Homo sapiens: one gene and its partners. The gene in region 2 interacts genetically with the main gene of each other region. Each region holds a gene or a part of one and is shown on either strand. Other genes may lie near its edges. The genes, in order: SEC23B, SLC39A9, EP300, SLC39A3, NUDC, CARM1 and TRAPPC13.

Region 1 (4,110 bases), on a different chromosome or scaffold from region 2:
GTTTGGCCTTCCCACCTCTATACAGTCCGATAACGGACCAGCCTTTATTAGTCAAATCACCCAAACAGTTTTTCAGGCTCTTGGTATTCAGTGAAAACTTCATACCCCTTACCATCCTCAATCTTCAGGAACGGTAGGACAAACTAATGGTCTTTTAAAAACACACCTCACCAAGCTCAGCCTCCAACTTAACAAAAAGGACTCTGTCAAGAATAGAGCCCAAAAACTCACCAACCAAACAAGTAATTACACTGAACTCCCTTGGACACTCTCTAATTGGATGTCCTGGGTCCTCCCAATTCTTAGTCCTCTAATACCTGTTTTTCTCCTTCTCTTATTTGGACCTTGTGTCTTTCATTTAGTTTCTCAATTCATAGAAAACCACATCCAGGCCATCACCAATAATTCTATACGACAAATGCTCCTTCTAACAACCCCACAACATCACCCCTTACGCCAAAATCTTTCTTCAGTTGAATCTCTCCCACTGTAGGTTCCCACGCTGCCCCTAATCCCGCTAGAAGCAGTCCTGAGAAACATCGCCCATTAATCTCTCCATATCACCCCCAAAATTTTTTCACTGCTCCAACACTTCACTATTTTGTTTTGCTTTTCTTATTAATATAACAACACAGGAATGTCAGGCCTCTGAACCCAAGCCAAGCCATCATATCCCCTATGACCTGCACGTATACATCCAGATGGCCTGAAGCAACTGAAAATTCACAAAAGAAGTGAAAATAGCCTTAACTGATGACATTCCACCTGTGATTTGTTTCTGCCCCACCCTAACTGATCAATGTACTTTGTAATCTCCCCCACCCTTAAGAAGGGTCTTTGTAATTCTCCCCACCCTTGAGAACGTACTTTGTGAGATCCACCTCCTGCCCACAAAACATTGCTCGTAACTCCACTGCCTATCCCAAAACCTATAAGAACTAATGATAATCCACCACCCTTTGCTGACTCCTTTTTCGGACTCAGCCTGCCTGCACCCAGGTGAAATCAAGAGCCTTGTTGCTCACACAAAGCCTGTTTGGTGGTCTCTTCACACGGACACATGAGATAATTATTTCCGATAAAAATGGAATAAAACTAGAAATCAATAACAGAAGAAAGCAAAAATATCAACATATATATGGAAATTAAACTCACTTTTGAGCATGCTCATGTTCAAGGGTTGTAAGACTTAATATTGTGAAGATGTTCATGCTGCCTAGTGAACTACAGATTCAATGCAATCCCTTTTCAATTAACAATTTTTTTTTTTTAGAAATAGAAAAAGTAACCAACAAATTATACGGAATCTCAAAGGACAATAAAGAGCCTAAAAATGTGGCCGGGTGCGGTGGCTCACGCCTGTAATCCCAGCACTTTCGGAAGCCGAGGTGGGTGGATCACAAGGTCAGGAGAACGAGACCATCCTGGCTAACATGGTGAAACCCCGTCTCTACTAAAAATATTAAAAAAATTAGCCGGGCGTGGTGGCAGGCGCCTGTAATCCCAGCTACTCGGGAGGCTGAGGTAGGAGAATGGCGTGAACCCGAGAGGCAGAGCTTGCAGTGAGCCGAGATCGTGCCACTGCACTCCAGCCTGGGCAACAGAGCAAGACTCCATCTCAGAAGAAAAAAAAAAAAAGAAAAAGAAAAAAAAAAGAGCCCAAAAATGTTTAAAAAAAAGAAACAATGTCACCTTTTCTAATTTCAAAGCACATTACAAAGCTACAGTAATAAAAACAGTTTAGTTCTGGCATAAAGACAGACAAGTTTTCCAATAAAACACAATGTAGCAGAAATGCAAACCTCCAACATATGGGTAAACAGTTATTTGAACAGCTATATTCATTGAAGCATTATTCACAAAGGCCAATATTTGAAAGCAAAACAAACTTTCCTCACTGAATAAATGAATAAATACAATTTGTAAAAAAAAAAAAAAAAAGAATTACTGTGGCTGCTGGGTGAAGAATAATGTATAAATAGGCAATGGTAACATCAGGGAGAACAATTAGAAGATTCAAGTAAGAAGGAGTGGCTGGCCCAGGGCAGCTGGTAGTAGGGAGGGGGAAGTGGGTGGATTCTGGATAAATTTCAAATATAGAGCCAATGGGATTTTCCAGTGAATTAGATATGGAACATGAAAGAGAGAGGTCAAGGATAAGTCTAAGGTTCTGAAGCTAAACAACTAGATGATGGAGTACCATCAACTGAGATGAAGAAGGCTACAGAGAACAGGTTTGGAATTTAATCAGTTCTACCTTTTTAGTAGCCTTCTATAATGTCAGGACTTGAAAACAATGCCAGTAGATGCACACACATCAAACCTAAAGGTTAGGATCCTGCTGCCCTCACAGCTTTAAGTCCCCTGCCCAGGTAAGAGACATGGAAGACAAAGGATTTCAAGAGAAATTCAGTATTTAACATTGCTCATTAAATGCACAACAAAGAAATTACCTGTATCACGTACTCAATTGTAGAAAACTGGGGCATCAATTCGGCAGGTTGATTCACCTCAGATATGCCTCCATAAGCTGGAGGAAACTGAAAAGAAGGAAACAGTTTTATTAGGGTTGGCATAACTATATTACACTTTTTATTTTCCATGTGTAAAAATGATAATGATGCCAAGACGAGAGGAACACTTGAGCTCAGGAGCTCCAGACTAGCTTGGGCAACACTGTGAGACCCTGTCTGTATACAAGAAGTAAAAACATTAGTTGGGCGTGGTGGCTCACACCTGTAGTCCCAGCTACTCAGAAGGCTGAGGTGGGAGGATCACTTGAACCCAGGAGGTTAAGGCTGCAGTGAGCCATGATTGCGCCACTGCACTCCAGCCTGGGAAACAGAGCAAGACTCTGTCTCAAAAAAGAAGAAAAAAAATGGTAATGACCATGTATTTATTCTGAAAGCACAAAATACAGGACACGTTAAAAAACATAAAAATCAGCATTTAAAACTTCTAACCCTGCCTTATATTTATATCATTTCTGTCCTCTTAAAAAATATTTTTTAGAGCAGTTTTAAGCTATTGTAACTTCTAAATGTTTAAAAGCACACTTTATGTTGCCCAGGCTGGTCTTGAACTCCTGGTTTCAAGTGATTTTCTCCCCTCAGTCTCCCAAAGTGCTGGGATTACAGGCATAAGCCACCATGCCTAGCCAAAAACACACAAATGAAAACCATTTCTTAAGTTTTGCCCTGCAAATTAAAGGCTGAGATTTCACCTATCTCATCAATAGTTAATAGTCTAAATAAAGCCAAAGACTTTATTTAGGTTTATTATTTTGGCTATTATCAATAAAGTAATACATACGGAATGTAGAAAAATTGGCAAGTCCAGGAAAATAGAAGCAAACAAAGGAGGAAAAGCCCCCCAAAATCCTATCACCTAGAAGCAGCTACTGTCAACCTCCTGGCAGATTTCCTTCCAGACTTAAGCACAGTTGAGAACATCCCATATATACAATGTGGAACTTGTTTTTTCCAGTCAACATAATGCCACAGGCATTTTCTTTTGTTTTTAAAACTCTCTGCAAATGTTTTAAATTCACAGCTTGTGGGTTGGCTTATAATCCAAATAGTCTTTAGCTTTACATTAAAAATACAAGTTGAGGTGCATCTCCCCAAAGTGAGCAGATGATCACTCCAGGCCAGTGACCTCAGAGTGACCAAATGCAAGTGCTGCTGAGGAGCTGACAGGCAGCTTTAGGGGCCTCTGGTTGGGAGAGAAGGGTACAACTGAGCTTGCGAGCCCCAGCAAGAATCTCAGTCAGAGCCAGCAGAAGACTCTAGCCCCATCCTGGCCATGACTGCCCACTGACTGCAGCTCCCAGCAGGGATAAGCTCGATCTATGACTACAGACACACCAGCCACCTCCCAGCAACCTGGAGAGGCCCTGTTCACCCACGCAGTCAGCCAGCTGCACAGAAGGGAGCAAAGGAGACGGAGATCACCCTGATCCCTCCGTCTTCCAGCTCTACATTCATTTAGAGCTAGAAAACCCCCACACTGTCCAGCTAGGAAGGTTACAAAAGATTATTTCCACTTAGGACACATAGACTTGCAGATCATACTTATAAATTGGCAGGTGACAATCTTAGGTAAGCATAA
Region 2 (4,110 bases):
AGTTTGAGACCAGCCTGGACAACACAGCAAGACCCATCTCTACAAAAAAGTACTTTAAAAATTAGCCAGGCATAGTGGCACTTGCCTGTAATCACAGCTACTCAGGTGGCTGAGATGCGAGGGAGAATCATTTCAGTTCGAGGCTGCAGTGAGCTGTGATCGCACCACTTCACTCCAGCCTGGGCAACAAGCAAGACTCTGTCTCTAAAAAAATAAAAATAAAATGTGTGGGCGCAGTAGTAGCCAGTAATCCTATACAGAGAGTTAAATGTAGCTTGTGTTCCATTATTCTTCTTCCTGTTTTATCTCTGAAGTCATTATTTTTGCTGGCTTTCGTGTCTGATGACCTGGTTTTACCTATTTTCTGCAGAGTTTTATGTATTATAAAATGTCAATAAAATGTATTTATTAAATTTATGCTAAACTGCAGTCTTTATAGGTTTATAAAAACTTTCTAATTTTAAAGCCTCTAATTGTTTAAGATCCTAAGTATAACTGGATGATAAGCCTTTGTATAAAAAAAGGCCAGAGCCAGCTTGCACACAGTGTAATTTGACTGTTCCTTCCAGTTCAGGGTAGCATTGAGCTATTTGCTGGCGCAGAGTGATTAGGGTCTTTAGCTTCCCTTCTTTGCAGTGTTTTAATAGGAAAATATCATTTATTAATAAGAGGTAATATCTTACTTTACTTGTATACTTTTTCCATTGTAAACCCCTTCCTTTTGTATGCTGGACTCCTAAGAAGATTAAATCCCCTGTAACTTACTTGACTGATGTTCATCTGTCATTTTACCTGGCATTTTGATGTCCCCATCTTTTAACTTTATTTACTTGTATGTTTCCTACAAGAGCAGTAACATCTTTATTTAATACACATAAATGCTTTTTTCACTCTTCAGCAAGGATTTATTAAGTAACTATTGGGTGCCTAGTGCTGTGCTACATTCTGTCAGACATGTTAAAGGAAAAGAGAGGTAGAAAATTTAATGCTTTAGCATTTACAGTCCATCTGGGGATAGAAAACATTCAAGTGAAAATGGCTTTGTATATCTGAGGTGGTGTATAGAGGAACCTTTGAAGACTGCCTGCATAGATCACTAGGTCTAGGCAAGGGGAGAGTTGCTTTGAGCTGGAATCAATTTTTTAAATTTATTTTTAATTTTTCTTGAGACAAGGTCTTGCTCTGTCACCCGGGCTGGAGTCCAGTGGCATGAGCATAGCTTGTTGCAGCCTTAAACTCCTAGGCACAAGTGATCCTTCCACCTTAACCTCCTAGATACCTGGGACTACAGGCATGCACCACCACACTTGGCTAAATTTTAAAAATTTTGTAGAGATAGGGTCTTGTGATGTTGCCCAGGCTGGTCTCAAACTCCTGGCCTCAAGTGATCCTCCCCCATCGACCTCCCAGACTGCTGAGATTACAGGCATGAGCCACCATGCTTAGTCTTCAATTTTTTATTCTTTCTTGAGGGAAGTGGTTCTGTAGTTAGACTTTGATTGATGTCCAAGTTTTGGCTTAACAAGCTGAGAAGTTCAGTATGTGCCAAGAATTACAGGTGAGGAGACTTGGGGAAAGGAGAATAAGAAGGTTTTGTTCGATGGTGTTAAGCAAACTGGTTTAACTAGACTGGACATTGAGAAATAAGTTGGAACTAGTTGATAAAGGGCTTAAGAACCTATCTAATATAGCAGTTTGCCCTGAATTTGAAAAGCAGCAGATTCTTAAATGGTAACTGACACATCATAAGGGTGGTGGGTTTTTTGTTTGTTTGTTTTTGAGACGGAGTTTCACTCTTGTTGCCCAGGCTGGAGGGCAATGGCACAATCTCGGCTCATTGCAACTTCTGCCTCCTGGGTTCAAGCAGTTCTCCTGCCTCAGCTCCCAAGTAGCCGAGATTACAGGCGCCCGCCACCATACTCAGCTAATTTTTATATTTTTTAGTAGAAACGTGGTTTCACCATGTTGGTCAGGCTGGTCTCAAACTCCTGACCTCAGGTGATCCACCTGCCTCGGCCTCCCAAAGTGCTGGGATTACAGGTGTGAGCTACTGTGCCCGGCCAAGGGTGGTGTTTTCAAACGATGAATCTGACACGGATGTGTAAGATTAATTATATTAGGGAAAAATGAGAGTAGGGAACCTGATGCTAATTTAGGTTTGAGTGATGAAAATTTAGGTTAGGGTGATGGCAATAAAAATGTGACAGATGTTAGAATGAAGATAAAGTTGCAGGATGCTAAGGAAGAGATAGACAATGACAATTAGATTGGTCTGGAAAGAAATGATCAGAGGCCATAGATCACTTTCCTTGGAATAGTAGAGGAAGAGGATTAAGGAATAGGAGGAAGTTGGGGCCATTGGGGGTTACACATTTCAGTGATTTTTCTGTTAAGGTAGGGCTGAGTCAAATGAAGAGTTCCCTCTTAGCCACCTCTTCAGGACAGGGAAATCTTCTAAGGGTTTGAAGCAGAAAGAAAAAAGATAGTGGCCGGGTGCGGTGGCTCACGCCTATCATCTCAACACTTTGGGAGGGTGAGGCGGGCGGATCATTGGAGGTCAGGAGTTTGAGACCAGCCTGGCCAACATTAGTGAAATTCTTTCACCTCCAGACCAATGTTTGAACAGTTTCTGTCTCACATAGCTTAACGCTGTCTTTCTCATTTTCACTTTAGATCCAGAAGCAGCAAGGTCTAGCAATTCCAAAATCACCACCACGCTGGGTCTGGTTGTCCATGCTGCAGGTAGGGTTGGATTGCAGTGGAACTTCTTTGTTTTCTATCGCACAGGGGAGACCTTAGTGTTTATATTTCAGGGACCGTCCTCATTGAATGCTCTTGGACTGGCCTTTGAGGAAAAGGTTTCTTAATGAAGTCCTCCAACACAAGCACAAGCTTGGTGTGCTCAGTGTCAGGGGTTTGCAAGCTAAGAATGGTTTCTATACTTTTTAATGGTTTAAAAAAAAAAAGAGAGAGAGGAACATACTGTAGCACATGAGAATTATATAATTCAAATTAAGGAAGTTTTATTGGAACACAGCCTTGCCCATGTATTTATGTATTGTTTGTGACAGTGAATTTGATTAGGGAAAAATGAGAGTAGGGAACCTATTGCTGATTTAGGTTTGTTTGAGTGATGAAAATTTAGGTTAGGGTGATGGCAATAAAAAATGGAGAAAGGCAAATGTGACTGATGTTAGAATGAAGATAAAGTTGCAGGAGGCTGAGGAAGAGATAGACAATGACAATGATCCATCTCTTTTGTTTTTGTGCAACAGTGGCAGAATTGAACAGTTGCAAGAGACCAAATAACTGCAAAGCCTCAAATATTTACTGTCTAGCTCTTAAGAAGAAGTTTGCTCTTTTCATTCTTGGCTCTAGAATGTCATCTGGAAAAGAGCCTTGGCGCTTCTGTCCTGAACAGCTCTGTTACCAGTTTATATGCAAAACACCAGTTTAAGCAGAAGTGGTATGCAGTGGAATGCAGAGATCTTAGCATTGCTGACAGGGTACACTTTAGAATCATAACCCAAACCTAGTCCTAGTAATAGAATTCTGTCAGTGGCAAAGAAAGGCATGTGAAAGGTGGTACACTGTTACCTGGCCCTTTCTAAGTATAATATGCTTTTCTAACAAATTTCATTCATTCAACCAGTGTTTACTTATTAAGTAGTAATCATCTATATAGAGTTCTAGTATCTTTATTTTATTTATTTCTTTTTTTGAGACGGAGTCTCACTCTGTTGCCGAGGCTGGAGTGCACTGGCACGATTCGGCTCATTGCAAGCTCCACCTCCCGGGTTTAAGCAATCCTCCTGCCTCAGCCTCCCAAGTAGCTGGGACTATTTTGTTTCTTAACCTATAAGATTAAGAGATGCTTCCTTTGAAATTCTTCTTTGGTATTTCCCTTGTTAGAATTTGATTAACTAATCAATGGATTTTTGATTAGTTGGAAAATTGAATGTTAGTTTTCCAATAACAACAACAGCAACCAAAATAACTAACATTGAATACTCTGGGCCAGATGCTATGCTCTTTACATAAGTTATCTCATTTAATCCTCATGAAAACCCTAAGAAATACATACTTCATTGAACACATTTTAAAGATAAG
Region 3 (4,110 bases), on a different chromosome or scaffold from region 2:
TAATCTCTGAACATGGGCTTCTGATGGGGGCAGTGGAATTCCAGGATACTTGTGTTGTGTGATAAAGGGTTTTTGATTATTTGACTTAATGCATATAGTTTGCATTAAGGGCATATATATTGAAATGTGAAAGATGGACATTTTTGTTTGTGTATATTTTCTTTACCTCTAAATATTTATATATATACATTTTTGAGATGGGGTCTGTTTCGCCCAGCCTGGAGTGCAGTGGTGTGATCTCGGCTCACTGCATCCTCCATGCCTCCCAAGCTCAAGCAATCCTCCCACTTCAGCCCCCCAAGTAGCTGGGACCACAGGCACACGCCACCATGCCTGGCTAATTTTTTTTTATTTTTTAGTAGAAACAGGGTTTCTGTATGTTGCCCAGACTAGTCTCGAACTCCTGAGCTCAAGATATCCACCCACCTCGGCCTCCCAAAATGCTGAAATTACAGGTGTGACCCACTGCGCCCAGCCTTTAAATATTTATCTTAAAAAATAGTATCAAGATGTTCCTTTAAATAATTCATCAAGTTTCCTTAAAATGACAAGAGCTGCCTCATGGAGCAATAATAGATACATTCGTATCTGCATCATATGGGGCAAATGTGGGCAGTAGGATTGCGGTTTTATTTTTAAACCATTTTCATTTGATTAGTCTCAAATACTTAAAAATCAGAAGATTTTGCATTTAAAAAGTCTGAATTTCTGGCTGCTTTAAAAAAAAAAGGACATGTCTGGCAGACTTGACCCCCTTTCTCCTACAGTGACACCTGTCTATAGCTGCACTCATGGCTGACTCTAGAAGAGCTGTGTTTTCTCTCCACTTCAGTCCTCACCATTCTCTATTGTTTTGGGTACTTAAAACAGTTTTACTTGGTATTAGCTGCTTGGCACTTGCCATTTAGCTTGGAACACCTATCCATATTGTTGACTTGAAAAAAAAGTTACTCATATCTTAGGTGAAAACATTGTTTTGTAGATAGTGTGCGTGAATACAGATATGTGTGGGGAGGAAGAGGAAAGGTTTATCTCAAGGTCATTTGTTGGATCCTGATTCATTTTTCTATTGATTTTTAATTTTTATGTAATGAGCATGGATTATGCATATACTTCTTATAAAGCTTGCAGAGTTACAGATAAAAGTTTATATGAATAAATGTTGAGCATTTCCTCTCTCAGTTTTGCTCATTTACTAAAGGTTGAAATTTGTCTGAAGGGATGGACATCTCCTTAGAAGAGCAGCAGGTCTTCCTCTCCTATGCCTGAGGCTTGAATGTACAGCCCTTGATGGAGGGTATGGCCAGGGTGGAGCCAGGTCACTACAGACATCTGTCCTTTCCGAGGGTGCTGTAAAAATATTTTCTCTGTGCACTATGTTGAAAGTACTACACTAGAGCATGTGCAGATAATCCAGGAAAAAGACCTTAGAATTTATGTATTTATATTTTAGGTTTTTTTTGAGACGGAGTCTCGCTCTGTCGCCCAGGCTGGAGTGCAGTGGCACGATCTCAGCTTACTGCAAGCTCCACCTCCCGGGGTCATGCCCCGGGTTCACGCCATTCTCCTGCCTCAGCCTCCCGAGTAGCTGGGACTACAGGCGCCTGCCACCACGCCCGGCTATTTTTTTGTATTTTTAGTAGAGACGGGTTTCACCGTGCTATCTAGGATGGTCTCGATCTCCTGACCTCGTGATCCGCCCGCCTCGGCCTCCCAAAGTGCTGGGATTACAGGATATTTTATTTTTTTAAGAATTATTTCTGTTTTTGTATTTAAGAGGTACATGATATGTAGTGTGGTATAATATGCATATTATTTAAAATCAATGTTCACAGTTTATGTGCATAAAAACGTTGTGCTACATGATCAAATTCGGCCACCATTAGACATGATTCATAGCTATTATCCATGGAGATACTCTGTTGCATGCCAACCAGACTCAGACTTTGTTAAACAATAACATATTAAATGCTATGATGGCCTCAATTTTTTTTTTTTTTTTTGAGACAGAGTCTTGCTCCATCGCCCAGGCTGGAGTGCAGTCGTGTGATCTTGGCTCACTGCAACCTCCGCCTTCCAGGTTCATGCGATTCTCCTGCCTCAGCCTCCTGAGTAGCTGGGATTACAGGTGCCTGCCACCACGCCTGGCTAATTTTTTTGTATTTTTAGTAGAGACAGGGTTTCGCCATGTTGGCTAGGCTGGTTTTGAACTCCTGACCTCAAGTGATCCACCCACCTCAGCCTCCCAAAGTGCCAGGATTACAGGCGTGAGCCACTGTGCCTGGCCTATAATGGCTTCAATAGCTTATTTTTCTATCAACATTGAAAGCACCCGGGCTCATAAAGGAATACCAACAAATCCACTTGGAGGCATTTTTCTGTATTCCAGAAATAACATTTTCTTCAAGCTTCTGTCTAGTTCAGAGCTTTATTTTGTGATTCATACTCAATTTTCAAAGGTATTATTAAAAATATTTTGTGGGGTTTGTGTGTGCAGTGAGTTTTTGTTTGGTTAAGGGAAGATGGTGCAAAGATACTTATTTCTCTTTTTTACTCTAGATGGCCCTCTACCTGACCCAAGTATGATCCGTGGCAGTGTGCCAAACCAGATGATGCCTCGAATAACTCCACAATCTGGTAAATAGTGAAAAAAATTTTTTTATTTTAAAAGAATCCCCGGTGTACTGCAAGATAATACTTGCTACCTGAACACCCGCTTTATGCCAACAGCAAGTGTCATGATTACCTGCCCATAGAGGAAGAGGGGGTGAAGAGCAGGTTGGCTGGCAGATCACAGGGCAGGTGACATTAAATGATCAAGTATCCATTAAAAAACAACTGCAGGCTGGGCATGGTGGCTCACGCTTGTAATCCCAGCACTTTGGGAGGCCGAGGCTGGTGTACCACCTGAGGTCAAAGTACGAGACCAGCCTGGCCAATGTGGTGAAACCCTGTCTCTACTAAAAATACAAAAAAATTAGCCGGTTGTAGTGGCACGGGCCTGTAATCCCATTTACTCTGGAGGCTGAGGCTGGAGAATCACTTGAACCCAGGAGGCGGAGTTTGCAGTGAGGCGAGATCGCGCCACTGGACCCCAGCCTGAGTGACAGCAAGACTTCGTCTCAAAAAAAAAAAAAAAAGCAGATTGTAAAATTTGTAAAATTCAGTTTGGAGATCCTGTTAGTTGATAATGTCTGTTTACTGCTACTGTGAATGAGACAGATTTATTTATACTTAGAAGGTTGAAAGCCAGTTTATTAGTCCTGATAGAATCAGGGCCAGGTGCGGTGGCTCACGCCTGTAATCCCAGCACTTTGGGAGGCTGAGGCGGGCAGATCACAAGGTCAGGAGATAGAGACCATCCTGGCTAACACAGTGAAACCCCCGTCTCTACTAAAAATACAAAAAATTAGCTGGGTGTGGTGGCGGACGCCTGTAGTCCCAGCTACTCAGGAGGCTGAGGCAGGAGAATGGTGTGAACCCAGGTGGCAGAGCTTGCAGTGAGCGGAGATTGCGCCACTGCACTCCAGCCTGGGCGACAGAGCAAGACTCCGTCTCAAAAAAAAAAAAAGATACAGAATCAGACATAAGAATTCTATCTTTTATTATTCAATTTCACAAAGGCATTCAGATCTAACATTTTGCTCATATTCACAGGTTTGAATCAATTTGGCCAGATGAGCATGGCCCAGCCCCCTATTGTACCCCGGCAAACCCCTCCTCTTCAGCACCATGGACAGTTGGCTCAACCTGGAGCTCTCAACCCGGTTAGTTTGACGTCTTTGGTAATCTCTTTGGCCTTTACCTGGTATTTTGAAAATCCTGTTTGTTCCTACTTTATAAATTCTCACAGTCATTTAAACAGACCATAACTCCTAGTTCTTCTGTAATTCTTCTGTATTTAACTCTACTAGAAAGCTGACCAAAAAACGAAAACAGCCAGTCCCTTGTCCCTGGAGTGTCAGTGTTTAGTGGCCTGCATGCGTTTTCACGGTCACTTCTCTTCCCTGATGTCTGTCTTCCCTCCTCCAGGCAGAGAACTGTCTTGCAAGGTTGATGGTGCGTTTTTGCCTGGTTCTTGAACTCGGAGAAGAGAGACTAGGCTTCTCC
Region 4 (3,107 bases), on a different chromosome or scaffold from region 2:
CGCCCGGCTGCTCGTCCCCCGTGCTCCTGCCCTCTCGGGAGCAGCGTCCCTGTGTCCACGGGAGGGATCGCACCGCGGGGCCCCTGCCCCACCGCTAGTGGGGTCCATCTTCCTCTGGAGACCCCGGTGTGTGTAAGCAGAGCTGAGGACTGATCTTTAAGCTGCCTCCTGGCCCTGCTCGTGAGTCTCAGGAAACTGTGACACTCACCTGGCCCGGGGGTCCTGGCCCAGGGGTCCCCGCTCCAGGAGCCACCCAGCAAAGGGAAAAGGAGAGGGCACTCCTGAGGGTACATGGCCCACTCACAGGGGGTACAGCCTTGTGTGGCAGGAGGGACGGAGCCCGGCTGTCCCATCGCAGTGACTCCAACCTCTAATAAGCCTCAAGACACTCGGGGCTCGGGCGGCGAGATCCTGGCAACAGAGTAGGGTAGACGTTGGGGCCTCAGGGCCCCCAGCTGGCTCCTGAGGCACAGGCGGCGCGGCCCTCACTCTGGCCACAGCAGCCAAATGCTCCCGTCCTTATTCACAGGCTGGGGGTGTGCGGCAGGGAGAGGAGGGTCCTGACCGATCTCACCGGGACCCAGGTCCTGGCCCTCCCGCCCGTGGGTTGCCACACCCCACGGCCCGAGGTTGACATGGCCACACAGCTTTGGTAAAGACTTTTAAGAGAAAGAAGTATTTTAAAAAGTAGCAGTGCTCTGAGGCTCAGGGTGTAGGATCGGGGGCACAGCCTGGTCCCGGGAGGCCCCTTGTGCACAGGTGGTGGCCCAGGGCCACAGTGCTCGCTCTTGGGGGACGCGCGGCCGGGGGACGCGGCCTGTGTCCGGCCCGGGGCTCCCGGCGGGCTCCGGCGGCAGGGACAATGGCGAGGCCGCTCACCACTTGAGGAAGACCATCCCGGCCAGGACGGTGTAGCCCAGCACCAGGAAGAGGACCTTGAGCAGACGGTCACTCTTCTCCTCCAGCTCCTTGGCCAGGATCTCCAGGAAGGTGATGAAGAGGAAGGTGCCGCCCGCCAGGCCCTGCAGCAGCACGGACGCCACGCTGCCCGGCACGCCCTGGGCGCTCTCAATGCCCAGGCCCAGGCCGATGCCCAGGGGGATCATGGCGCTTACGGTGACCGCCAGCTTGGCCGCGTCCCGCAGGGGCATGGCACTCCGGGCCATGCTGATGCCCAGGGCCACGGCCACCAGTGTCTCGTGGACGGCCACCCCCACGAACAGGCTCACCACTTTCTCCCCCTCCTCCTGCAGGCCCAGGGCCAGGCCCTCAAAGACCGAGTGGGCCGACAGCGCGAAGGCCAGGCTGAGCAGGCGCACGGGGCTGGCGCGCGAGAGGCCCTGCACGCTCAGGCTGGGGCCGTGGCCGTGGGGCTCCACGTACAGCGCGTGGCCCCGCGCGCCCCCCATGAAGGGGCTCTCATACTCCGAGTCGCTGCCCACGTCCGATCCGGCGTTGAAGGTCTCCAGGTCGATGAAGGACGGCTTCTCCTTGCGGAAGGTCAGGATCAGCTGCTCCAGGAAGACGGTCATGAAGAAGCCCAGCAGGAGGATGGTTTCGGCCAGCGGGTAGTCGGTGCTGATGTGGCCGAGGCTCAGGACCTTCTGGAGCTGCAGCCGGGGACACCCGAGAGAGAGAGAGAGACCCACGCTCAGGGGTGGCGGCGACAGGGCTGGCCAGATGTCACCGTTCAAAGCAAAGTCCAGAAATCCCCGATTCACACAGAGGTTAAAACAAGTGGGAGAGGAAGGGCTCGCCTGTGATGAATTAACACCACCACCACCAGCCAAGCGCGGTGGCTCATGCCTGTGACCCCAGCATTTTGGGAGACTGAGGCTGGCGGATTGCTTGAGCCCAGGAGTTCGAGACCAGCCTGGCCAATATGGGGAAACATGTTTCTACTAAAAATACAAAAATTAGCTGGGCATGGTGGCGAGCACCTGTAATCCCAGCTACTCAGGAGGCTGAGGCAGGAGAATGGCTTGAACCCAGGAGGCAGAGGTTGCAGTGAGACGAGATCGTGCCACTGCACTCCAGCCTGGGCGACAGAGGGAGACTCCGGCTCAAAATAAACACATAAAGAGCTGCACTGGCCTTGCGTGTTCTGCCGCGGGGCCTCCTCTCTGCTTCCCTGACCGACATGCCTGGGCCCGACTCTCCTCCTGGTCAGGGCTCTCCTAGCGAGGGGAGACTTTGGTGGGGAGAAACTAGACGTGGGTCAGACGGGAGCCGCAGGGCGTCTGCAAGAGGTACACACTCCTATGGGAGGGACAGCTGCTCACGGGGCGGACACGCAGGCATTAGGCTATGCGCCAGGATGAAATGTCTCATGAAAGGCAGGCTGTAAACGCCCACAACAGCTCCCTGGAGCCTCGTCACGGCAGGGCCAGAGTTCACAGCCACCCTCCAGAGAGACCTCGAGACCAAAGTGGAGGAAAATCACAACACAATCGACACTCAACAATGCCTGCTTCCCTGCTTCCTTCCCAGCGGAGACTTCATTACAACCTGCGCACGTGCACACACACACACACACACGCATATGTGCACACACGCACGCACACACACGCGCACACGCAGGTGCACACACAAGCACGCGCACACAGTGGTTCTCAACCAGGGCGATTCTGCCCGTGTGGACACCTGGCAATGTCTGGAAACATTTTTTATTTTCACAACTCGGGTAGGGGGAAGGTGCTGACATTCGGGGCTGGATTGTTCTCTGGGACGGGGCCGTCCTGGGCACTGCAGGGTGCTGCTGAGCAGTGTCTCTGGCCTCCACCCACTCCAGGCCAGGAGCACCCCCCATCGTGACAACCACAATGTCCCCAGGCATCGCCCAGTGTTCCCTGGGGGCAGTTCACGCTGGGTGAGCCTCTGCTGCAGCAGAAGGCTGTGTTTCCACGGAGAAGCCACTTAACTCCCTCACTGACCACCGGCTGGAGGCCTCATGCATGCCTCGCTTGAGGACAAGCTCATGAGGAACTCTAGCTACTCCCAAGAGACAGACGTTGATCAGGAGAGATGAGGCAGATGCACGGGAGCTGTGAACCAGGCACCATTTTCCAGGGGTGACTGAGAGCCTGGCCCTGCAGTGGGTGAGGCTG
Region 5 (4,110 bases), on a different chromosome or scaffold from region 2:
GCCGGCCTTGCCCTCAAGATGACCTCAGCAAATGACAAGAGTAGGCAAGCCAAAGCCATAAAGCCATAAACATGGCTGGAAAGGGGGCAGGGCAGCTCCTGAGGCAGCGCAGTGATCCACTCACTGCTGTCACCGAAGTCTAAGCCCCCAGGCACCCACGGTCCCCCAACCCCGTCTCTGAATTGCTCACTTCTTCAGAATCTCCTGTTTCTTCTGTTCGTCTGAAGTTGGCAGCCCCATGGACTTCTGTCGCTGGTCATACATCATCTTTTCCACCATGCTGCGAGTCTCACTGTCCAGGTCTGACAGCTGAGGGCAGGCAGTGACAGGAATCGGTGAAGCTCTGGAAACAACGAGGCCCCTCACCTTCCTGCTGAAGCTCCCCCAACCAGCCAGGGCTCACCTTGGAATTCTCAGGGTTAATCTTCTTGGTGTTGATCTCAGGGTCACTGGACACCAAGCGGCTCCACCACTCCATCTTATTGATCTGTGAAGAGAACAACCAGAGGGTGGGAGGTGGCCTGCTCTGTGCACCAGGAATCACCCCTTAACCCTTTCACAACCAAACTCTCTCCCATCCACATCCTGCACCTGAGACCCTTGCAGGCCTACACTGGATCCAGAGGTACAAGACTGTGCCCTTCCTGCAGCTAGGGGAGACACAGAGGCAAAGAGTTACAAATCAGTGTGATAAGGGAAAGAAGAAAGCAGAAAGGGAGATATTCATCCAGGGTGGAGGGAGAAAAGTTTGAAAGTGACACTCGGGCTGAGTCTTAAGACACAAAGCAGTATTCCAGATTTAAAATGGGAAGAAAATAAATATATATATTTTTTGAGATGGAGTCTTGTTCTTCTTGTCCAGGCTGGAGTGCTGTGGCACCATCTCGGCTCACTGCAACCTCTGCCTCCCGGGTTCAAGCAATTCTCCGGCCTCAGCCTCCCGAGTAACTGGGATTATAGGCATGCACCACCACACCTGGCTAATTTTTGTATTTTTAGTAGAGACGGGGCTTCACCATATTGGGCCAGGCTGGTCTCAAACTCCTGACCTCAGATGATCTGCCTGCCTCAGTCTCCCAAAGTGTTGGGATTACAGGTGTGAGCCACCATGTGCAGTGGTGCAGTCAGCTCACTGCAACCTCCACCTCCTGGGTTCAAGCGATTCTCCTGCCTCAGACTCCCAAGTAGCTGGGATTACAGGCGCCCACCACCATGCCCAGCTAATTTTTTGTATTTTTATTAGAGATGGGGTTTGCCATCTTGGCCAGGCTGGTCTCAAACTCCTGACCTCGTGATCTGCCCACCTCAGCCTCCCAAAGCGCTAGGATTACAGGCATGAGCTACCACGCCCAGCCAGAAAAAGTTTTTAAGCAGGGAAGTGCCAGGTGCAGTGGCTCCTACCTGTAATCCCAACACTTTGGGAAGCCAAGGCAGGAAGATCCCTTGAGCCCAGGAGTTTCAGACCAGCCTGGGCAACATGAGACCCTGTCTTTACAAAAAACATTTAAAAATTAGCCAGGTAGGGTGGCGCTCGCAGTTACTCAGGAAGCTGAGGTGGGAGGGTCGTTTGAGCCCGGGAGGTCAAGGCTGCAGTAAGCCGTGATTGCGCCACTGCATTCCAGCCTGGGTGAGAACAAGACCCTGTCTCAAAAAATAAAAAATAAATTTAAAAGGCAGGGAAAGGGCTGGGCATGGTGGCTCACACCTGTAATCCCAGCACTTTGGGAGGCCGAGGTGGGCGGATCACAAGGTCAGGAGATCGAGACCATCCTGGCTAACACGGTGAAACCCTGTCTCTACTAAAAAATAGAAAACAAAACAGACAAAAAAAAAAATACAGGCATGGTGGCGGGCGCCTGTAGTCCCAGCTACACTGGAGGCTGAAGCAGGAGAATGGCATGAACCCAGGAGGCGGAGCTCGCAGTGAGCCGAGATCGCGCCACTGCACTCCAGCCTGGGCGACAAAGCAAGTGCAGAGGCATGGAGGGGTGAGTGAGTGAAGGCAGCCAGTGCCAGTCGGACAGGCTGTTACAGGGTCTTATGTGCCCTGGGAAGTTCTCCTCAGACCCTTGGCCCTTTTCAGACCACCTTTATTTACTGATCTCTGTGTCCTACCTCTCTGTAAAGGCAGTGAGGTTGAGAATGAAGGCTTCCTGAGGGCACATATTTTCCTATGTTTTGTTCACTGTTCTCTTTCCAGCACTTAGAACAAGAACAGTACCAGGCACAGAGCAGGTGTTCAAGTATTTGATGAATTGAATGCATGTACAAACCTAGTGAAAAAGAAGTGGCTTTAGAAACTAAGACTTTCAATTCTGACTCCACCCCTTCCCAGAGGTAGGAGCTTGGGTAAATCAACGAGCTCTTTTCCTGACTCAAGCCTGTAATCTCAGCACTTTGGGAGGCCAAGGTGTGAAGATCACTTGAGGCCAGGAGTTCAAGACCAGCCTGGGAAATATAGTGAGACCCCCCGGTCTCTACAAAAAAATTTAATAACAAAAATTAGCCGAGCGTGGTGGTGTACACCTGTAGTCTTAGCTACTCAGGAGGACGAGGCGAGAGAATTGCTTGGGCCCAAGGGTTCAAGGCTGCAGTGAGCTAAGAAGGTGTTACTGCACTTCAGCCTGGGCAACAGAGTGAGACCTTGTCTTTAAGAAAATAAAATAGAGACAGATCTACTTTAAAGAGTGTTGTCATGGGGATTAAGATAATCCCACAATGCCCCCAGCATGGCTCCTGAGTAAACTAAGCACACATCCTCCCTTCTACTTCCATCAACACCCCAGGCTAGAAGGGCTGGGCCTCACATACCTTCTCCAGATGCACAGTCACCACCTTGCCGTCCTCAATGAGCCACGAGCTCTCCTCCACCTTCACTTCATTGTAGAGCTCCCCATCAATGATCGCTGGCTGCCCCTTGAGCCCCACCCGGAGGTGCCGCCGCTGGATGTCCACCACCATGTCCTTCCCTTTCAGCCGGAAGTTCACACAGAAAGGGACCGCCAGCTGCATAGGGCAGAGGCAGTCAGAAGAGGCCACTAAGTGCTGCTGGTACCCCAGGCTGGCCCCCTAAGCTTTACCTCTGGTCCCTGACACTCACGTCCAGCTCCGACAGGGTCTGGGTCCAGCGGTAATTGGGCAGGTCTGCCCCGTTGCCTAGGTTGGGCTTCAGTTTTCCTTTGTCCTTCTCATCTTCCTCCTCATCTTCCTCAGTATCCTGCTTACAATCAGGGACACTCAGCTACTTACTTGACAGACAAGACACAGATTGAACCCTCACTGGGCCAAGCCCAGGGCTAGCACTGGGCATACAGCCACAAAAGAAAACAGACCTGGTCCCTGCCCACTCCACAGAGGGGCAGACCCCCAAGCCTTGGTCCACTGGGAACCAGGTAAAACTTGGTTCTGATCTCAGTCTGAGAGGAGCTCAGACTATTAATATTATACCATGTGACAAAGGATATGGCTGGGCCCACAGAACCCAGCCAACCTCAGATGGGACCTGTAATAGGCACTGCCCTCTCTGGCTATTGGGTTTTCTTGCCATAAACAGGTTAAGGTCAGTCGGTTTTTATTTTATTTTTTTGGGACGGAGTCTTGCTCTGTCGCCCAGGCTGGAGTGCAGTGGCGTGATCTCGGCTCATGGCAACCTCCGCCTCCCGGGTTCAAGCAATTCTCTGCCTCAGCCTCCCGAGTAGCTGGGATTACGGGCGCCCACCACCATGCCTGGCTAATTTTTGTATTTTTAGTAGAGATGGGGTTTCACCATCTTGGCCAAGTTGGTCTTGAACTCCAGACCTCGTGATTTACCCACCTCGGCCTCCCAAAGTGCTGGGATTACAGGTGTGAGCCACTGCGCCTGGCAGGTTTTTATTTTTTTAACCTGGATCCTTTGGTTCAATGTCTCTGAGTGTGATCTTAAAGTATGGGGAAGATTCCCAAAGCCAGGAGGGGAGGGGATAGGATAAGGAAGGGTATTCCAGAGAAAGCAGTAGGCAGGAGATTTCCTGTAAGTTCCAAGCTCCTGGCTCATCCCAAGTCCCTGCAGTCCATCTCACCTGCTTCCCTGGGGAGTCAAGGCTGCCGTTCTTGAGCTGGGCCTCATGATTC
Region 6 (4,110 bases), on a different chromosome or scaffold from region 2:
CGGCCTGAGGATTTTTTGGTTTCTCTTTTGGCTGGGGCCAAACTCCCCACAGACCCCAACTCCTGCCTGCCTCATTCATTTATCCCAGGGGTCTACAAGCTTCCCCTGCCTCGGGCCAGTGAGTAAATATTTCAGGTTTTGCAGGACACTGTGGTCTCAACTGATTATTGTTGTTTGTGGATTGGGTTTTAGTTTTTTTCCCTAATCAATCTCTCAAAAACTGTAAAAGCCTTTCTTAGCTTTGTCTGTACAAAAATAGGCCACACCGGGCCCAGCGGTTCGTGACTATAATCCCAGCTACTTCTGAGGCTCAGGCAGGAGGAGGATGGTTTGAGGCCAGGGGTTTGGGGCCAGCCTGGGAAACACAGCAAGACTCTGTCTCTAAAAAAATTGCTTAAATTAGCCAAGGGTGGTGACATGTGCTTGTAGTCCCAGCTACTTGGGAGGATGAGGCCAGAGGATCACTTGAGCCCAGGAGTTAGAGGCTGCAGTGAGCTACTAAAATACAAAAAATTAGCTGGGCATGGCGGCATGTGCCTGTAATCCCAGCTACTCGGGAGGCTGAGACAGGAGAATCGCTTGAACCTGGGAGGCAGAGGTTGCAGTGAGCCGAGATTGCGCCACTGCATTCCAGCCTGGGCAACAGAGCGAGATTCCATCTCAAAATAAATAAATAATAAAACACAGGCTGGGTGCGGTGGCTCGCACCTGTAATCCCAGCATTTTGGGAGGCTGAGGCAGGCAGATTATTTGAGGTCAGGAGTTCGAGGCCAGCCTGGCCAAGATGGTGAAACCCTGTCTCTACTAAAAATACAAAAATTAGCCAGGGTGGTGGCACAGGCCTGTAATCCCAGCTACTCAGGAGGGTGAGGCATGAGAATCACTTGAACCTGGGAGGTGGAGGTTACAGTGAGCCAAGACCATGCCATTGCACTCCAGCCTGGGCAACACAGTGAGACTCTGTCTCACTAATAAAATACAAACACAGATAAAAATAGGCCACAGGCTCAATGTGGCCCATAGGCCTAATTTATATCACTGCCCTTTCCCTAGCTGCCCCCAAGGTCAAGCATTTTGAGTCAACACAAGTTTATGCACAGTCTGGTACGGGATAAATGCTCAATAAATGACGGTATCCATTAGCCACACGCAGGCACCGCTGAAACACAAATGCCTTTCTGGGGTTACTAACTTTCCCTGTTGTCACTCCAGCTTGACACCGAGATGTCCTAAAGATGGGGCACATAACAAGCTCTTCTATACCCCTGCCCCAGCTGTCAGGGGGATCCCAGGAGTGTAACCAAAGGAAGTCACAAGGGCCCCTGGTTCGGTGACAGCAGGCCATTCTTCACCTTCTTTGGACAAAGGGTTTTTCTCTGAACTTTCCACCCCATGGCATGCCCCTCACAAACTGAAGTTTAGCCCCTGACGGAGCCCATGCTGCTGTGTAAGCTTCTGAGCCAAGGGGATGGGAGAGTCTAAAGCACTGGCCACACTGACTCGTGCTGACCAAGAAAGAAAAGTGACACAGTCATTTCCAGAAAGAGCGCCACAGGGCTGGGGAAGTGAGAGTTTGTTCTGTTCTCTTTCCCGGCACCCCTCCCTGAGAAACTGCCTCCTTTCCAAGGGAGGGCAGCCTATGCCCAGGAACTCCAGAGGCCATGCCAAAGCTTCCTCAAGCCCAGGAAGCCCACGCCAAAGGGCCTCCCCCTCTGCACAGGGAAAATGGCCTGGTGTTGGTAGTTGCCATTTGGCCAATCTCATGGACGTAGGCCAGGGTGACTTCAGATGGCAAGAAGTAACTGTTCACTACAGAGTGACAGAGACAGGCCCTTCTGCAGCTGTCATCCTTCCCCTGGAGGGTGCAGACGTCAAGGAACAGGGCTGGAAGTCCTCCCCACGTGCCTCTCCTGGGCCTCCTATGTTAGGTACAGATCATGGCCCAGGACTCCCTCCCATGGCCGGTGAGCCAAGACAGCGGGGCAGCCCTGGAGCATAGGGGGCTCCTCCTAGAAAAGCTAGCTCATTCCCATGCCACACCAACGAACACTGCTGTCAGTAACATGGACATAAATATTTATTGGCCGGGCGCAGTGGCTCACGTCTGTAATCCTAGCACTTTGGGAGGCCAAGGCAGGAGGACTGCTTGAGCCCAGGAGTTCAAGACCAGCCTGGGCAAAATAGTGAGACCGCATCGCTAGAAGAAACTTAAAAATTAGCCATATGTGAGGCTGGTGGCGGTGGCTCACACCTGTAATCCCAGCACTTTAGGAGGCCAAGGTGGGCGGATCACCTGAGGTCAGGAGTTCGAGACCAGCCTGACCAACACGGAGAAACCCCATCTCTACTAAAAATACAAAAAAAATTAACCGGGCATGGTGGCACATGCCTCTAATCCCTGTAATCCCAGGACTTTGGGAGGCCAAAGCAGGCGAATCGCTCGAACCCGGGAGGCAGAGGTTGCAGTGAGCCGAGATCACGCCATTGCACTCCAGCCTGGGCAAAATTCCATCTCAAAAAAAAAAAAAAGACAGACATCCAAGTTGTAACCCCTGGAATCTGTGAAGGTGACCTTATTAGGAAATAGGGTCTTTGCAGATAAGGATCTTGAGATGAGATCATCCTAGATATAAAGTGGGCCCTAAATCCAATGCCCAGTGTCCTTATAAGAAAAGAACAGCTGGGGCCGGGCACGGTGGCTCAAGCCTGTAATCCCAGCACTTTGGGAGGCCAAGGTGGGCAGATCACGAGGTCAGGAGATGGAGACCATCCTGGCTAACACGGTGAAACCCCGTCTCTACTAAAAATACAAAGAATTAGCCGGGCGTGGTGGCGGGCGCCTGTAGTCCCAGCTACCCGGGAGGCTGAGGCAGGAGAATGGCCTGAACCCAGGAGGCAGAGCTTGCAGTAAGCGGAGATCGCGCAATTGCACTTCAGCCTGGGTGACAGAGCCAGACTCCGTCTCAAAAAAAAAAAGAAAAGAAAAGAACAGCTGAGGTGGGAGGATCACTTGAGCCTAGGAGTTCGAGACCAGCCTATAACACGGCGAGACTCCATCTCACTTTAAAAAAAAAAGGAAAAAAGAGGACACAAGACACAGGAGTGAAGACAGACGCAGGGACTTGGGTTTCGCTGCTGCAAATCAAGCAACAGCTGGATCCACTGCAATCTGGAAGATGCAAGGATTTTCCTGTAGAACCTCTCCAGGGATTGTGGCCCTGCCAGTACCATGATTTCAGACTTCTGACCATGAACTGAGAGAGAATCCATTCCTGTTGTCTTAAACCAAAAATCTGTCATAATTTGTTATTGCAGCCATGGGAAATTAATACACCCAGCACTGATCACCTCCAACTCCAGAACCCATGCTTTTTTTTTTTTTTTCAGACAGGGTCTTGCTCTGTCACCCAGGCTGACATGCAGTGGTGCAATCTCAGCTCACTGTAACCTCTGCTTCCCTGGTTCAAGCGATCCTCCCACCTCATCCTCCGGAGTAGCTGGGACTACAGTCGCAGGTACCACCACACCTGGCTAATTTTTGCATTTTTAGCAGAGACGAGATTTTGCCATGTTGGCCAAGCTGGTCTCAACCTCCTGACCTCAAGTGATTCGCCTGCCTCAACCTCTCAAAGTGCTGGGATTACAGGTGTGAGCCACCACGCCTGGCCAAGAACCCATGTTTTTTATCTCCATATCAATGTTACTTAAGGATAAAGAGGGCGGTGCGGTGGCTCATGCCTGTAATTCCAGGACTGTGGGAGGCCAAGGAGGGAGGATCACTTGAGCCCAGGAGTTTGAGACCAGCCTGGCCAACACAGTGAAAACCCTTTCTCTACAAAAAATATGAAAGATTAGCTGGGTGTGGCACATGCCTGTGGTCCCAGCTACTAGGGAGGCTGAGGTATGAGGATCACTTTAGCCATGGAAGGCTGCAGTGAGCTGAGACTGAGACTGTACCACTGCACTCCAGTCTGAGCAACAGAGTGAGGCCCTGTCTGAAAAAATAAAAAATAAAAATAAAAAAAATAAAAAAGAAAGAAAAAAAACAAAAAAGTGTAAAAAAAAATTATTTCAGAACCCTAAGGATATATCATCTGGGAATCTGGGACT
Region 7 (4,110 bases), on a different chromosome or scaffold from region 2:
GAAAAATAGTCTCCTACCACCATTCACGGCTACTTATGGCTTTTAGCTGTTTATTCTTATACTTGGCTCCAAATTTTAAATTGCTTATTTAAATTTTATTTTTTTTAGACATATTGACTTTATAATATTAACTTGTATATGCCTGAATCTCCCTAACAAGCATTTGAGATGGCTACTATGTGCCAGAGACCAAGGTGGATGCACTACATGAATATTGTTAATTTCACAAAAATCCAGTAAGACTTATATATGTTGTGTGCATGTGTCTGTGCATGTCCCTGGTGTGTAGGGGCAGGGAATGACATTTATATAGAGAGGAAACTAAAGATCTAAGAGACATGTGCTTTTTAGAAAACTTGTATGAATCACCAAAAGTTAAAGTGAACACCAAGAGAAGTTAACTTTTGAAAAAAATAACACTTGTGAGCTGGTCAATAAACTGATTTGCTGAAAAAACTTAAAAAAAAAACCAAAAATTCCCCAACACCCTGTAACACCCTATAAGCACAGGGTCTTTGCCCTGTATTGTTGTTTACTGAGCTCACGATGTGGCAGACACTGAGTAAGGCCATGTCCCTTCTCCTGAATAATTCCAGTCCAGTGAGAAAGAGACTAATACTTACAGTAATATATGAGTGTCACTAAATACACAATATATGAGTGTCACTAAAAAACTAAGTTAAAATTTTCTATGATGGAGAAGGCATGAATACCTGTGCTTTGGAAAGTCTAGGTAGCTTCATAGAGGAAGTGGGTATTTCTGTAATTTTGAAGGATAAATATTTCCTATCTTTCTAATACCAAAAAGAATAAATATGGAATTAAAAGGATTATACATTCACACTAAGAGGACTAGGATTCATCACTGCAATATTATAAAAATACCCCAAATAATAATACAAACCAAGTGGTAATACAAGTAGGAGCAGAGGGCATAGGACTGGAACTTAATTCTATTTTTTTCTGGTTTCAAAGCCCTGTGCTCTTTGCTTCCTGACAGTTCAGATTATGCTCTCTCTTTACTGTCAAAACCCAGTTTTCGAATCAATGATCTCCCCTTACATTAAATCCATAAGCAATGTTTGGTTTCTTAATACTCAAGATACAGCTCAAGTACAAGCATGCCTCAAAAAATCTTGCTACTTCAATTCATAATATATTAATACATAAGAACCTATTAGTTCATGTTTTGGTGAAGGAAGTATAAACAATGAATACCTACCTCATAGGGTGTGACAAATGAATGAAATAAAATACAGAAGATGCATAATACAATAGGCCCTTAAAAATATGTAATTATACTGCTACCAGATGAAGAATTTTACAGTACTCAATATCAACATCAGAGAAGGCTGTATGTCAAGAGGAAAACTTAAAAGGAGATAGTAACAAAAAGATTTTAAAATTATCTTCTAGGCAGGTGAGGTAGAAAGGACATCCATCTACAAACAGTGGCATTACCTGCAGTTTGTTATTTTACAGGTAATATGAAAAGGTTCTTCAAGGTTTACGGTATCTGGTATTGCCTCCAAAGACAACCTAACATCTCCATAACCTGGAGCCTAAGAAAACAAGCAACACAGTTAATGTATATCTATCACAAAACCTTTCCATTTTAATGAAGGCACCACAGCAGCACATTTACTCAACAGCTGTTGGGTTTCCAAGCTGATGTTCTAAGAAAATACTTCTGATTCACTTTACTTGTCTCTCATTTTAAATTCTTTTGCAGCTACTGCCTGTGGAATAGCCTGGCAGACCTGGACTGTTTTTGTTATATAATTATTCCATGTTCAGTAGAGTTAAGATGAATCTCACAGGTAAGTAGTCAGTAAAGAAATTTCAGGGAGTTGAAGGGACACTTTCCAGATGCTGTAGCTTCTATGTGTGTAACTCTAAATAGGTAAAGTTATTTTCTAAAGAAAGAGGGGGATGATGTTGAAAGGAGCCAGGAAGAAAATCATGACTTTTTACAAGACGCACAGATGAGGATGGATTATAACAACACGAAGGCTTGGAACAGGCCATGGCAGAAAAATAACTAACGGCTATATTTAAGTGGGCCCAGGAATCATCATCATCATTTTTTAAAAATTATTGCCTCAAACAGTGGAAAGAAAAGTAAAATTTGGAATATGTCAAAACAGGTAATATTCAGCATAAAGGGAGGAGAATCCTGTCGTATATTCTTACAAGCATAAGAAAAAGAAGCCTGGTAGCTATCCCTACTCTCAGAGAAGAAATTAGGTAAAATATGCAACCAATGCTTATAAGATAACTTTAGTAGAACTCACCTTCTGAGGAGATGCCTCAGATTTTTAACATCTTAAAAATGGTAGGAACTGAGTAGGTGAATGAAGTAAGTCCAAGAGTTTCAGGACATTGCAAAATAGAAAACCTTAATGTGTTTGGAAATCAGAAGAAGAGTGAGCATGTGTTACCAAAGGAGAGACACTTAATAACAGTTATTTTAATTTCTGTGTGATAAAGAACACGTGTATTAAGGATAAATTAACATTTGACCATTTTTCATTCATGGCAACACCAGTCTTCGACCTACCTATCAGTGACACTATTAATCTTTTCTGCTCCAGTAGTAGTAATGCCTTTTATAGTGCTCCAATTTTTTACTGCTGGATGTAGAAAAAATTAAGTTGTTCTAACTACCTGTCTTTCACACACCAAAACCCCAGCGAAGTTTTTTCCAGACTCACCATTCTTTGAAGTTGGCTGGTCTGTAACCTTCCCCTTTCACCTAGATTTGTTTTCCATACTATATCCAATTTTCCAATTACTGTTACTCCCTTAATGATGCCTGCTTTTTCTGCAAATTCATTCTTTGGCTTTAGGCAGTATAAGTACTGGCGTGTATCCATTGGTTGCAAATATGCTCTTGACCCAAACGTAGACACACTGAGAGGGGTGGAGACAGAGACGGAGAAAATTCTCTAGCATCTTTTAAAAGAAAAACCATGGCTGTGATTGTTCCTTTGGATAGGAACTGGATGATGTACCCTCCAAAGATCAACAACAGAACATGTTAACGATTTCAATACAAATAAAAAGAACGTATACTGCAATGATTTATTTTTCCTTCATTTTTTTCAGTTGATATCGAAAATCTTGAGGTTCTTTATAGTAATTGGACCCCGAAAGGCAGGGGTCCCTTTTTTTTTTTTTAAATAATTTTAAGAGACAGGGTCTTGCTCTGTCACCCAGGCTGGAGTACAGTGGTATGATCATAGCTCACTGTAACTTCTAACTTCTGGGTTCAAGGAGGTTCTTTATAATAGAATGTAATATATTACTTATAAAATTGAACATGTATCAATTAACTGAAAAGTGCAACAGAAACCAGAACCTTAAGTATCCTGTCTCTTTTCTCTAAAATTATCAAAGATAAGAGTTTAGAATAATAAGAGACATACCATTCTAAACTAATTTTCAAAATGAACTAAAACATCTAGAAAAGAATGGAAAATTGTTTTCCTCAGTGAGGATGAAAGAGGCTATGAACTTTTCTGTGTGTAACCAACCTAAGAATATAAAAGCAAACTTTTCATTCCTAATTAAGAAATTCAGATGCTATCCCAAGCTATTACCTTCTTCTTCTTCTTCTTCTTTTTTTTTTTTTTTTTTTTTTTGTTTAAAATACAAGGTCTCTCTCTGTCACCAGGCTGGAGTACAGTGGTGCAATCATGGCTCACTGCAGCCTTGAACTTGTGGACTCAAGCGATTTTCCTGCCTCTCTCCCAAGGAGCTAGGAATGCAGGAGTGTACCACCATGCCCAGCTAAATAAAAAAAATGCCAAGTTGCCCAGGTTGGTCTAGAACTCATAGCTTCAAGCAATCCTCTGGCCTCAGCCTTCCAAAGGGTTAGGATTACAGGCATGAGCCACCACACCCAGCCTATTACTTTCTTATCTGTATTATTGTCAACTTTACATTTATTCTTCCTCTTTTAAATTAGCTGTGGAAAGGTGTATGTATTTCCTTTTCACAAAGTATTAAACCATCTATTCCTATGTCCTTTTCTTTTGATGTTGAGAGAGTATTTCTTTTTTTAAACCCACATTCACCCTTACTCTTTTTAACTTCTCTACCATTCCT

Evidence for each region.
Region 1: changes in SLC39A9 (region 2) and SEC23B together harm fitness less than expected from each alone (positive genetic interaction), as found in Homo sapiens cells (one large-scale study listed by BioGRID).
Region 3: changes in SLC39A9 (region 2) and EP300 together harm fitness less than expected from each alone (positive genetic interaction), as found in Homo sapiens cells (one large-scale study listed by BioGRID).
Region 4: changes in SLC39A9 (region 2) and SLC39A3 together harm fitness less than expected from each alone (positive genetic interaction), as found in Homo sapiens cells (one large-scale study listed by BioGRID).
Region 5: changes in SLC39A9 (region 2) and NUDC together harm fitness more than expected from each alone (negative genetic interaction), as found in Homo sapiens cells (one large-scale study listed by BioGRID).
Region 6: changes in SLC39A9 (region 2) and CARM1 together harm fitness less than expected from each alone (positive genetic interaction), as found in Homo sapiens cells (one large-scale study listed by BioGRID).
Region 7: changes in SLC39A9 (region 2) and TRAPPC13 together harm fitness more than expected from each alone (negative genetic interaction), as found in Homo sapiens cells (one large-scale study listed by BioGRID).

The regions. Positions count from the first base shown.
Region 1 is NC_000020.11:18,514,080-18,518,189, reverse strand, and holds part of SEC23B (protein transport protein Sec23B), read right to left. Parts: intron 2,541-4,110; coding exon 2,454-2,540; intron 1-2,453. UniProt on the Homo sapiens protein: Component of the coat protein complex II (COPII) which promotes the formation of transport vesicles from the endoplasmic reticulum (ER).
Region 2 is NC_000014.9:69,450,568-69,454,677, forward strand, and holds part of SLC39A9 (zinc transporter ZIP9), read left to right. Parts: intron 1-2,673; coding exon 2,674-2,742; intron 2,743-4,110. UniProt on the Homo sapiens protein: Transports zinc ions across cell and organelle membranes into the cytoplasm and regulates intracellular zinc homeostasis. Participates in the zinc ions efflux out of the secretory compartments.
Region 3 is NC_000022.11:41,144,180-41,148,289, forward strand, and holds part of EP300 (histone acetyltransferase p300), read left to right. Parts: intron 1-2,559; coding exon 2,560-2,637; intron 2,638-3,657; coding exon 3,658-3,767; intron 3,768-4,110. UniProt on the Homo sapiens protein: Functions as a histone acetyltransferase and regulates transcription via chromatin remodeling. Acetylates all four core histones in nucleosomes. Histone acetylation gives an epigenetic tag for transcriptional activation.
Region 4 is NC_000019.10:2,731,876-2,734,982, forward strand, and holds the end of SLC39A3 (zinc transporter ZIP3), read right to left. Parts: exon of another isoform or gene 2,651-3,107; intron 1,611-2,650; coding exon 876-1,610; 3' UTR 649-875; downstream 1-648. UniProt on the Homo sapiens protein: Transporter for the divalent cation Zn(2+). Mediates the influx of Zn(2+) into cells from extracellular space. Controls Zn(2+) accumulation into dentate gyrus granule cells in the hippocampus.
Region 5 is NC_000001.11:26,941,767-26,945,876, reverse strand, and holds part of NUDC (nuclear migration protein nudC), read right to left. Parts: coding exon 4,059-4,110; intron 3,218-4,058; coding exon 3,101-3,217; intron 3,007-3,100; coding exon 2,812-3,006; intron 488-2,811; coding exon 404-487; intron 310-403; coding exon 191-309; intron 1-190. UniProt on the Homo sapiens protein: Plays a role in neurogenesis and neuronal migration. Necessary for correct formation of mitotic spindles and chromosome separation during mitosis. Necessary for cytokinesis and cell proliferation.
Region 6 is NC_000019.10:10,874,298-10,878,407, reverse strand, and holds part of CARM1 (histone-arginine methyltransferase CARM1), read right to left. Parts: intron 1-4,110. UniProt on the Homo sapiens protein: Methylates (mono- and asymmetric dimethylation) the guanidino nitrogens of arginyl residues in several proteins involved in DNA packaging, transcription regulation, pre-mRNA splicing, and mRNA stability.
Region 7 is NC_000005.10:65,659,502-65,663,611, reverse strand, and holds part of TRAPPC13 (trafficking protein particle complex subunit 13), read right to left. Parts: intron 2,914-4,110; coding exon 2,715-2,913; intron 1,563-2,714; coding exon 1,462-1,562; intron 1-1,461.